Linked DNA regions of Homo sapiens. The protein of the gene in region 3 purifies or fractionates together with the protein of the main gene of each other region. This does not show direct contact. Each region holds a gene or a part of one and is shown on either strand. Other genes may lie near its edges.

What was found.
Region 1: the proteins of HMCES (region 3) and FAHD2A purify together in Homo sapiens (affinity purification with mass spectrometry; one large-scale study listed by BioGRID and IntAct). This does not show direct contact.
Region 2: the proteins of HMCES (region 3) and DPCD fractionate together in Homo sapiens (co-fractionation; one large-scale study listed by BioGRID). This does not show direct contact.

What each region holds. Positions count from the first base shown.
Region 1 is NC_000002.12:95,405,569-95,409,222, reverse strand, and holds part of FAHD2A (oxaloacetate tautomerase FAHD2A, mitochondrial), read right to left. Parts: coding exon 3,420-3,654; intron 2,283-3,419; coding exon 2,066-2,282; intron 1-2,065. UniProt on the Homo sapiens protein: Tautomerase that converts enol-oxaloacetate, a strong inhibitor of succinate dehydrogenase, to the physiological keto form of oxaloacetate. It is thereby required to maximize aerobic respiration efficiency by preventing succinate dehydrogenase inhibition.
Region 2 is NC_000010.11:101,594,740-101,598,393, forward strand, and holds part of DPCD (protein DPCD), read left to right. Parts: intron 1-1,853; coding exon of another isoform or gene 1,854-1,900; exon of another isoform or gene 1,901-3,275; intron 3,276-3,654. UniProt on the Homo sapiens protein: May play a role in the formation or function of ciliated cells.
Region 3 is NC_000003.12:129,281,798-129,285,451, reverse strand, and holds part of HMCES (abasic site processing protein HMCES), read right to left. Parts: intron 1-3,654.

The DNA.
Region 1 (3,654 bases), on a different chromosome or scaffold from region 3:
TCTCAAACTACCACCCATGGATTGCTTATTACAAAAATAGAAATGCATCTTCACAATGGAGGGACCTAGTGAATGTCAGCTAAACCAAGTGGTCAAATTCTGGGACCACTGACATGAGCCTCCCAGTGGGATACGATGGAAAATGTATAACATCTGCTTTGTAGATCTCTTGATAAAAATGCTTACCCTGACACTAATCATGAAGAAACAACCAGACAAACCCAGAATGTGAAACATGCTATGAGACAACTGGATTCTTCAAGGAAAGGGCAGGGGGTATTGTTTGAGAGCAGGAGTTGGCAAACTATGGCCAGCTCAACATCTGCTATAATCAACTTTGATTGGAAACCCATCATTCATTTCTGTATCGTGGTTTTCACACTATAACAGCAGAGTTGAATTGTTGCAAAACAGAACATATGACACGCAAAGCCTAATATTTACTAATTGGCCCTTGATATGGTTTAGCTCTGTGTCCCCACCCAAATCTCAACTTGTAGCTCCCATAATTCTAACGTGCTATGGGACGGACCCGGTGGGAGATGACTGAATCATGGGGGCAGGTCTTTCCCGTGCTGTTCTCATGATAGTGAATGGGTCTCATGAGATCTGATAGTTTTAAAAATGGGAGTTTCTCTGCACAAGCTCTTTTCTGCCTGCTGCTATCCACCTAAGATGTGACTTGCTCCTCCTTGCCTTCTGCCATGATTGTGAGGCTTCCCTAGCCACGTGGAACTGTAAGTCCAATTAAACCTCTTTTTTTTGTAAATTGCTCAGTCTCGGATATGTCTTTATCAGCAGCATGAAAACAGACTAATACAGCCCTTTAAGAAAAAGTCTATGGAACCCTGTCCTAGATTGAAACCACTAAAGAGATATAACTGAATACAGTGTGTGGCCTTGGTTGATCATGGAGCAACAAACGAAGTAACCAAATTAGAAGTTATCTTTGGGGAAGTCAGCAGTACTTCCGATTGGGAATTGGGGCAATTGGATTTCATATTAAATATTATTCAAGTTAATTTTTTTGGTTGTGATAATGGTGGGATGGTCATGCAAGCCATTGTCCTTATTCTTAGAAGATGCCTATTTACGTTTTTATGACTAAATTGTCTTAATATTTCCAATGTGTTTTAAAAGGTCCCCTCCACCCCATACCCTGCAAAAAAAAAAAAAAAAAAAAAAAATGTGTGTTTGCCATGTGGAGGGCAGGGAGAAGACAAGGGAGAAAAAGGATATATGGCCAAATGTTTACAATGAAACCAGGTGGAAAAGTTATCTGAGTGTTCACTGTATTATTTTCCCAGCTTTTCTATAATTTTCAAGACATTTCTAAAATAAAAATCTGAGAGAAAAAGTAACCAGTGTTAGAAAGGGTATATACACTACTGGTGGATGTGTAAGTTGCTTTTACAATTTTTTAAAAGGCCAATTGGCAGAATTTTTCAAAAATTTTGAAATACTGCCTATACGCTGACATATTTAAATTCCAAAGGGTTTATTCAAAGGAAATAATAATGTATTAATGGACATGCAAAGCCTTTTCCACATAAGGATGTTTACTGCAACATTTATTTATAGAAGCCAAAAACTAGAAACAGTATCCAGCAGTAAGGTACTCAGGAATAAACTAATCTACATAACAAACTCCGTGGTGTCAGGGCGAATACTTAATGGCATGAAAAAATGCTCCTGATGGAGTCTTAAGTAAAAGGTAAGTATATGTACAGTATAAACATATACAGGAGCGGAGAAACACTGGGAAGGTAGACAGAAAAACATTAATATTCCGAGCCATGGGCAGTGGGATTATGGGTGACATAATTTTTTAATGTTTATCTCTATTTTATTATCTACAGTGAAGGTGCATTGCTTTTGTAACCAGGAAAACACGTACATTAACTTTTTTTTTCCAAGGCCAGTGTTACTACTGTGTGTACAATCCTGTAGAGTTTCTGCTGAATGCGCTATTGAGCGAGAGGTGGCTCCAGTAGGCTCAATACTGAGCTCAGAATGCCCTTGTGATGGGCCCAGTGACTAGGGAGGGCAGTGGGGAGACACTGACCTGGCTCTGTGGTGGGAGGACCACCTCATCATAGGGCCCCACGATGGAGCTGGCAAACTTGCTGAAGATGATGGGCTCCTTGGGCACGGGCACGTTCTGTTCTTTGCAGTGGTCCACATAATTCATGCCCACACACACCACCTTATCTGGTCGTGTGACTGGAGCCAGGAAGGTTACCTCCGACCGTGGTAGGACTGGCAACTGGGCAGCCAGGGCTCTGTAGAGACCAGAGCAGGTGAGAGGGTCTGGCTGGGAACAGGTGGGCAATCCCGGGCAGGCTGGGCAGATCCTGCAGCAGCTACAGGTTTTGCTTTTTGAAATCTATTTCCTAGCTCTATCAACCATCAGAGTCAGTGTGAAAATCACTGACTATTGTCCTTTGCTATCAGAGCAGGGCTTTTATTTATCCAGTGTTGATTTCCTCTCCCCCTTAGGTAACTCATGTCCATGTAAAAGATACAAACTGGAATACATGGAAAGGTTTCCCTTTCCCCTTCCGGTTACCCCGTTCCCCTGGCTCTTCGCAGCTACTCTATGGATATTCTTCTCCCACCCTTTTGTATGCAAATGATAGCATACTATTTACATCTTTTAAAAAAACAACTGATTTTGGAGATCTCTGCTTAACAATATGTAACAATACATAGAGAGTGTCCTCTTTATTTCTTGTGGCTGCATATTACTGCTCTATAGAGATATACCCAAGTCCCTAATGAGGGGCATGGAGATTTCCAGTCTTTGCAGAATATGGCAATATGGGAACATACTGTTAATACTGTGAGCTGTGAAACATTTGTATTTTTTTCCATTTTAATAGATGAAAATGACATCTTAAAGTATTTTTAATTTATTGTTCATCAGCTCCTTAGACCAGATTCTATAGGGGTCCAGGCTTCAGGGACACTCTCACCTAATCTAGTCCAAACCCAGGAACCAAGTGTCTTATAGAAAACCTCCTTGCAGTCCTCTCTCCTTGTAGGAGCTGGGAGTCTATATCACTCCCCCAGCTGCATAAGATGCCTTTTAGGACCCCCGGGCCCAGACCCGTCAGTCAGTCCAGGACTTCATTCCCAGAGGAGGCAGTGTGATGAAGTATAGAGTCCTGGTTCCAGCACCACATGTATGGCCTTCAAATTGTTAATCACCTCCCCTAGCTCTCAGTTTTCTCCTCTGAAAACTGAAGATGTTATTATGTAAGATTTCTAAGGATCTTTTAAGAGAACGGGAGAAAAGGAAAGGTGGGGTTACTCTGCTCCCTTGCAAAAGAGCTACCTGCTGGTGCTGTTTCCCAGAGCGGGGAGGGTGCAGGGGGACCAGGGCAGCTGCTTCAGGGCGATGCTGCCCACTTACTTACCTTCTTGCCACTGAGAGGGTGGCCTCTCCCTGCTCTAGGAACTGCGTCATCGTCTTCGGGAGTGTGGGGTCAAAGGCATTGAGGTTGATAACCCCTCCACCATTCCCTGTCTCCAGGCCCAAGTGAGGCCCCACCAGGTGGGGTGCCCGGAACTGCACTAGTCTCATGTCTCTGGAGGGTTGAAAGGGCCACTTCTGAGCCTGCAGCAGAACTGTGAGTAACCTTCTTCTACCAG
Region 2 (3,654 bases), on a different chromosome or scaffold from region 3:
TAAGTGACAGAGGCTCCCAGTGGGCCTTTAGTAATACTTGGGGCTGACATAAGCACAATGAACACTCCTAGCCTTAGGCTTGAGGTAGGAGCCCAGATCAAATGTAGAGGCTGGGAGAGACGGAAGCCCTCGAGACAACAACGTTCCTGAGCATAATCTGGGCACCAAAAGTGGAATGCGAGTCCTTTTGACCAGTAAAATTCATCCCCACCCCTCACCCCAGACAAATGAGAGAGGGAGTAATTCTAAGATGTAGAGAAACAGTTGGGAAAAAACTTTACAGAGGAGGTGGTATTGGAAGTGAGCCTTGTAGGTTTAGGAGGGATAAGGGCAGACTTTCACAATTTGTTTTTCCTTGTTTTTTTGTTTGTTTGTTTTGTTTTCTAAAGCCACACCAGGAGCAAGCGAGTATCAGAGGCAGAGCTTCTGAGCTTGCCTCAAAGGCAACACTATAAAATATGGTCCTTATTTTGAAGAACATCTCAGTCAAAGAGGGTCAAAACAGTGATTTTGCAGCGTGGTCACTTTCATTCCTGCAGCGCCTTTCCTCTAAGAACAGGCTCATGGGTAGGGGCTCCAGCTCAGATTTCTGGGAATTATTTGATTTGTCCACTCTGTTCCCAGGTGTGCACATCAGCATTAACCAGCTTCCCAGAGCTAGGTGGCTGGCTCTTTGACCCAGGGCCCAAGGCTGTCAGCAGTGGGAGTTGGTCTCTTTATTAAGTTCCATCTGAAATGCTAAGACCAATGATGGAATCACAGGCTGGTTTATTTTCTTGTCATTATTCTTGGCTTTAATTTCTTCCTGGGCCTGATCGACAGGTAGTATTGGTGAGGGAATTTCTTTTTCCTTTTTTCTGACAGCTCATAAATGTCTAGAACCGACAACATGGATTACACGGGCTTGCATTCCCTCAGTCTCCAGTCTTAAAATGTTTGTCCTGCGCATGTTCAGTCGCACAGTGAAGTGTTGATCCCTCCTTATTATGAGCTGCTTGGGCTCCAGTCCCAGTTGGTTTAGTCTGGTGCTATTAAAAATCTTGATGTGTTTAGCATATGACACTGATTCGGTGGAAACCAATACAGTAGTAATATCCTCACAATGCATTGTAATTTATAGTGCTCCCAGGGGATGACAGCCTTGGAATGCCTAACAGGGGAGAACTTATGAAAGCAGAGGTCACGTGGACTAGCCACCACCATAACCAGGCCAGAGAATAGCCGCAGCTCCTCACTCCCAGCCCCCCGTGCCACTTCTCTACTCCTCCACACAGAGCAAATAAAACAGCTATAGCTGCTGCGGCTGTAAAAACAAACAAATAAAACCCAGGCCTCTTTGTTGTGCTTGGATATGAAACTGAAATTAAAAACAAGTCCAGGTTTCTTCATTTGTAGCACCATGTGCCCTGATATCCCTTATTAACCTGTCACTTCTCCTAGTGGCAGGTGGGGAATAGACCATGGCTTCCAAACTCCTCTTTCTTAAAAGCAGAAATGGAGAAGACTGTTCACAGGAGAACACTGTTTGGCTAAAGTTGACCTAATAATGATATTAATAGCGTGACTCTTACTGGGCACCATGCTAAGTGCTCTACGTGAATTACCTCATTTACTCGTCCTCGTTAAAGCCCTATGAGGTAGATACTCTTGTCTCCATTTTACATTTGGAAAAAATGGAAGCTCAAAGAGGTTAAGCACCTTGTTGAGAATTATGTAGCTAGTTTCTAAGCCAGGATTTAAGCCTAGTTCTGTCCAATTAAGAGCCCATGCTTTAGTCCTCAACAACATAGTGCTGGGAGTTGAGAACACTTAAATCCAACTTTCTTTTCTTCTTACTGTTTTTCTTTCCCCAGAAAGGCCTGAGTGTGGACTGATGGGCAGACAGGAGGACCTCACTTGAGCCACTGGGCCCAGCTCTAGAACAGCAGATCTTTTTCTTACTCTTCTTCCTATCCACCACTGCTGCCCTGGCAAAATACTCTCCATTATTAATTTTTAAGTATAAATAATCCCAGGGGTTGAGCTGGCTTTTGCTTGTGCATTCTATGAAGTAAAGTAGGGACATGGTTTTTGTGGCAATAAATAGGAATAGTTTCCATTTTTCTAGCTAAGTATACAAATTTGATAATTAGCCAAACCAGTTTTCTGTTAGAAAAATTCAAAGTAATTTACAGAGGAAGAATTGCCAATAGGTGTGCGTCAGTCTGGGACAGAGTTCCTCCCGTCGGTGTTAATAAGCATGTTAGTGTCCTGTTTTTTTCCTACCCTCTCAGTGCTATTCATTCCCACCCCCCACAATGATTGCTGCATGTATTCATAGAGGAAAAAACTGAAGGCCCCACAACAATGATCGGAACATCAAACCAGCCTGAGAAGAACACAGCATGTCCAAGGGGGCTGAGGCTGAAGGGCAGGCCATCCCCCAGCGATTACATTCGGATTACCGACTTAATCTGCTTTGGTATTTGACCGCCAGCCTAACCACCCCAGGCTGCATTTGGAGGATATTGAGCACTTTCATCCCCAAGCACTTCACTGGCTTTATAAATGACCCACTCGATTCCCTTCGGCCTCCTCTGGGATGGGACATGGCAGCTGTTTAATTGCCACATAGCAATGTTGCAGTGTTTTAAGGCAGAAAAGAAGAATCCTGCATCCAGTTGAAGCTGCAGGGAACATTTAGGGAAGGGGAATGTAATTATCCACATTGGAAGTGGGCCAGGGTTTGGAGCTTTGGGGAAAGAGGCCTTTAGGACTTCTACTTTCCAGCCCACCTGAAAGATGGGGCCTCCTTTCAGCAGTCTGGGACATCAGCCTGCTTCCTGCTGATTTAGGAAAAAGCCCCCAGGCGCCACCTCCTTTATATATTCCCCATCAGACTCTTCACCGGGGTGGAAAGTCTCTTTTCCAAGGTCTGGCTGGGGCTCAGCTGGGAAGATATGACAGCGTCCCGGGAAGCTGCCTCACACCAGTTTGGGTTTAACATATAATCAAATCAGAGTGACAGCAGATGGAAACAGTCTTCTGTTGCCGCAGGAGCCGTCCTTGAGTTCAGAAACAAAGACGGGGGCAAGAAAGACAAGACAAAGTGTGCATTTGTACATGTGTGTTCACACCCATGCACTTGTGCATAGGAAAAATAAGAAGGACTTCCCCAAAATCTTTTATTGGGTCTTATCTCTAGAGGGAATGGGAAAGGAGACTTTCTTCTACATTCTAACAAAGAATTTAATTCTCAAGGTGTTTAAACAAAAAATAAAGGTGAAGCAGCCAGAGGTGTCAAGTTCCCTGAGTGGTTTTTAAGGTCAGAAGTAAGGAAATCAGCAGCTGACTTTCTTCCTTCTTTGAGTACTTCTTGGGAAGTTTTCTGTGTAAAACTCAAAATTTTTTGGAGTAAAAGTGCACAGAAAACCCTGGGGTGGTTGTCGTCCCTCCAGGCCACCTTGGTGCATTATTATGCATTAGGACACCCATTTTAGCAAGGCCCATGACTTACAGGGGCACCTCACTTATCCAGCCCTAGGTCGTGAGGTAGTCCTCATAATTTACTTTTTCAGATAATCAAAGCTTACCCTTTAAAGGCCAAATATAAAAAATAAATTGAGCTACTTAAAAAAAAACAGAAACCTTTCAAAATATTACATGTGCTTATTG
Region 3 (3,654 bases):
TTCTCTGCTACTTATGAGGTTGGACTAGTCTCAACTTCTTGGGCCTTCAACTTTCCTTATCCAAAAATTAGAACAAACAATAATTACCCTGTGGGATAATTTTCAAGAATGAAAGATAATATAGTTAAAATGTGTGGCATGGAGTAGGCACTCAAATTGTAGTATAGTATTTTTCTAAGGTAAGGATTAAAAACAAATCATAAAATTGTCTATAAAAAGATGACTATTAATGCCATGAAGGTAAAGTTTCTTAGAGAGTATATCATGTACAGGATTTAACCTGAGGGTACAAAAAATTTTGTTAAAAGAAGAAATTAGGGTAAAAGCAGAGTTCCAAGTAGAAGTACCTACTAAGATAAAAGTAGAACGAAGAAAGTCAGGAGAGAATGGAATCTGAAGAAAGGAATCATCAGTAGTCGCAGTCTCAGGAGAAGGGCTTCCTTTTGTTTAAAAGCTAATCCCTCCATAGTGCTGCTGATAAAATCCAGTCCTGCTTCTTCCAGAATCCTGCCTGCTGTATCCATTAATTCTCTTTTTCTTGAGATGGAGTCTCGCTCTGTTGCCCAGGCTGGAGTGCAGTGGCACGATCTCAGCTCAATGCAACCTCTGCCTCCCAGGTTCAAGCGATTCTCCTGCCTCCGCCTCCCAAGTAGCTGGGATTATAGGCATGTGCCACTACGCCCAGCTAATTTTGTATTTTTAGTAGAGACAGGGTTTCACTATGTTGGTTACGCTGGTCTCGAACTCCTGACCTCAAGTGATCCGCCTGCCTCAGCCTCCCAGCCTCCCAAAGTGCTGGGACTACAGGTGTGAGCCACTGCGCCCGGCCAATTCTCTTTTCATATATATACACACAAACAGTTGATTCCCTTTATTTGCAGTAGTTAGATTTCATAAAGTTGCTTTGAGTACTGAACTGCTGCTCTTAGGGAAATGCAAGGTTATGTTTCTAACAGCATCTGGTGACGACACTTTCATCAACTGATCAATATATGACCTTGTTTTATGTGTGTTTCTGTTTAAAGACATCTAATTTAAACTTACTCTTAATTCATTTACACTAAATTCAAGACCAAGAGCACTATAACTCATGCCTGACTAAAGCTTATCCAATGTATATATCTTCTTTTTAAGACATATCACAGCCTTCTTTAGCTTGGGAATACCAGCCAGCACTTTAGTGCTATGCTTGGGATCATTTTAAACAGTGAAATCACACATGGCACTAAACTGGCTGCAAAAAAGATACTTGTTTATAACGTAAGAGATGAAACAAGAAGGCAGAGCTCTGCCTCGATCAACCTCAGCTGGAAACATCAAGGTACTCAAATTTGTCAGCTCTCTGTATGTGCACCAATGATTGCAAAAGCAAAGTGAGTATGAATTTAGGGGTTACAAATAAATTTTAGTGAGTAGGTGAATTTGGAAATATGGAATCTAAGAATAATGAGGACTGTTTGTGTGTGTTTGTGAGAAAGAACAGTTGAAAACAGAGATTTCATAAATCCTCTTTCTCTTCCAGAATCAAATTTGCCTTCTGGCAGCTCAAGCCTATAATCCTGGCACTCTGGTAGGCCAAGTGGGGAGGATCCCTTGAGCTCAAGGTTGATTTTTCTTTTTTGAGACAGAGTTTCGCTCTTGTTGCCCAGGCTGGAGTGCAATGGCGCGATCTTGGCTCACTGCAACCTCCGCCTCCCACGTTCAAGCGATTCTCCTGCCTCAGCCTCCCAGGTAGCTGGGATTACAGGCATGCACCACCACACCCGACTAATTTTGTATTTTTAGTAGAGACAGGGTTTCACCATGTTGGTCAGGCTGGTCTACAACTCCCGACTGCAAGCGATCCACCTGCCTCAGCCTCCCAAAGTAATGAGATTACAGGTGTGAGCCTCTGCACCTGGCCTGAGCTCAAGAGTCTTGAGACCAGTTTGAGCAACACAGTGAGAACTTCCCCCTCAAAATGTCAAAAGGAAAAGCCTGTGATCCCAGCTGCTGGGGAGGTTGAGGCAGCAGGATCGCTTGAGCCTGGGAGGTCAAGGTTGTAGTGAGCCATGATTGCGCCACTGCACTCCAGCCTGGGCAACACAGCAAGTCCCTGTCTCCAAAAAAAAAAAAAAGTCTTCCAAGCAGAAGGACCCCCAGCTCAGTGCATAAATGAGAATGAGACAACATTACGCAATGGTCAACTAAATGATCTTTCATCAGAAATTTGCAAGACAACAATACTGAAAAAATCTGTGGTTCTCAGTACGGGACAATTCTGACACACCCCTCCCCACCATCCAGAGACTTCTGGCAGTATCTGGAGATACCTTTGGTTGCTCTGATCTGGGGGATGCTATTGTGGAGGATGCTACTGACATCTAGCTGGTAGAGGATGTTGCTAAACGCTCTACAACGCCCAGAATAGCTCCCTATGACAAAAAATTATCCTGGCCAAAACTGTCAACAGTGTCAAGGTTGAGAATTCTGCTCTCACAAATTCCACTGATCAGCGCTGAGAGTGTACCCTTGACAACTGTAAACCAAATCCAAATGTGAGAATGACGAATAGAAAGTAGTTGAAAAGCCAAAATACTAAGACCATTGCTCAATATTAGTCATCTTTCCTCTACCCTTTTGGACTTCTGAACAGAACACCTGGTAGCACTGGGGTGGATAAATGAAACAGGAAGTAATTTGCAAATCTGTGGTTTCAAATGAAAATGTTGCTATCTATATACATATGCAGGCTGTTAATGATTTGAATGAACTGCTAAAATGGTTCTAATTTTGCTTTATAATTTATAGGTCTGAGAAAAATGAGATATCAAATATTATCAAAATTAAGAAACCATAGCAATCTTAATAAAACTTGTTAGAGATGTGAAATCAAATACTATATCAGCAAATTCATACCACTGGCCCAAATGAGGGCTGTATTTGCTAGTGGCTCCACCTTCCCCATTCCTGGTTCCAGGATGCATCCACTGGAGTGGGGACGGTGGTCTGGATCTCAGTTCTAGTTCTGTCCCTCACTGATTAGGTAACCTAGGACAAGTCATAATCTATGTATACTTCTATCTTTACATCTGTTAGACAAATTTTTCTTCCAGCTAACTTTCTATAATTCTAAGGAGGTCATATAAATGACTAAGGCTTTTTTTTTTTTTTTTTGTTAAAAACAGGGTCTCATTTGCTCAGGCTGGTGTCCTGAAATCCTGGCCTGAAGCAATTCTCTGGCCTCAGCCTCCCCCAAAGTGCTAGAATTACAGGCGTGAGCCACCAGGCCTGGCCAGGCTCATACACTTAATCCTGCTCTCTATTCTCACTCTAAGTTATGCTTTCCTTTGAAATATGTTTTATGCTCTCTTTTCCCCTTCAAGGTTCTCCAGAATATTTTATTTTGATTCCCCTCTCATTTAAAACAAAAAGTTTCAATAGGGAAGTATGCATCCTCTAAAAATGACACAAAAATAACTATGTCATATAAATGGCTTCATTCAACCAAGAACATTATTTGATTTTTTTTTTTTTTTTTTTTTTGAGACTGAGTCTTGCTCTGTCACCCAGGCTGGAGTGCAGTGGCACATTCTCGACTCACTGCAACCTCCACATTTTTTTTTTTTATAGTACAGACAGAGTTTCATCATGTTGGCCAGACTGATCTCAAAC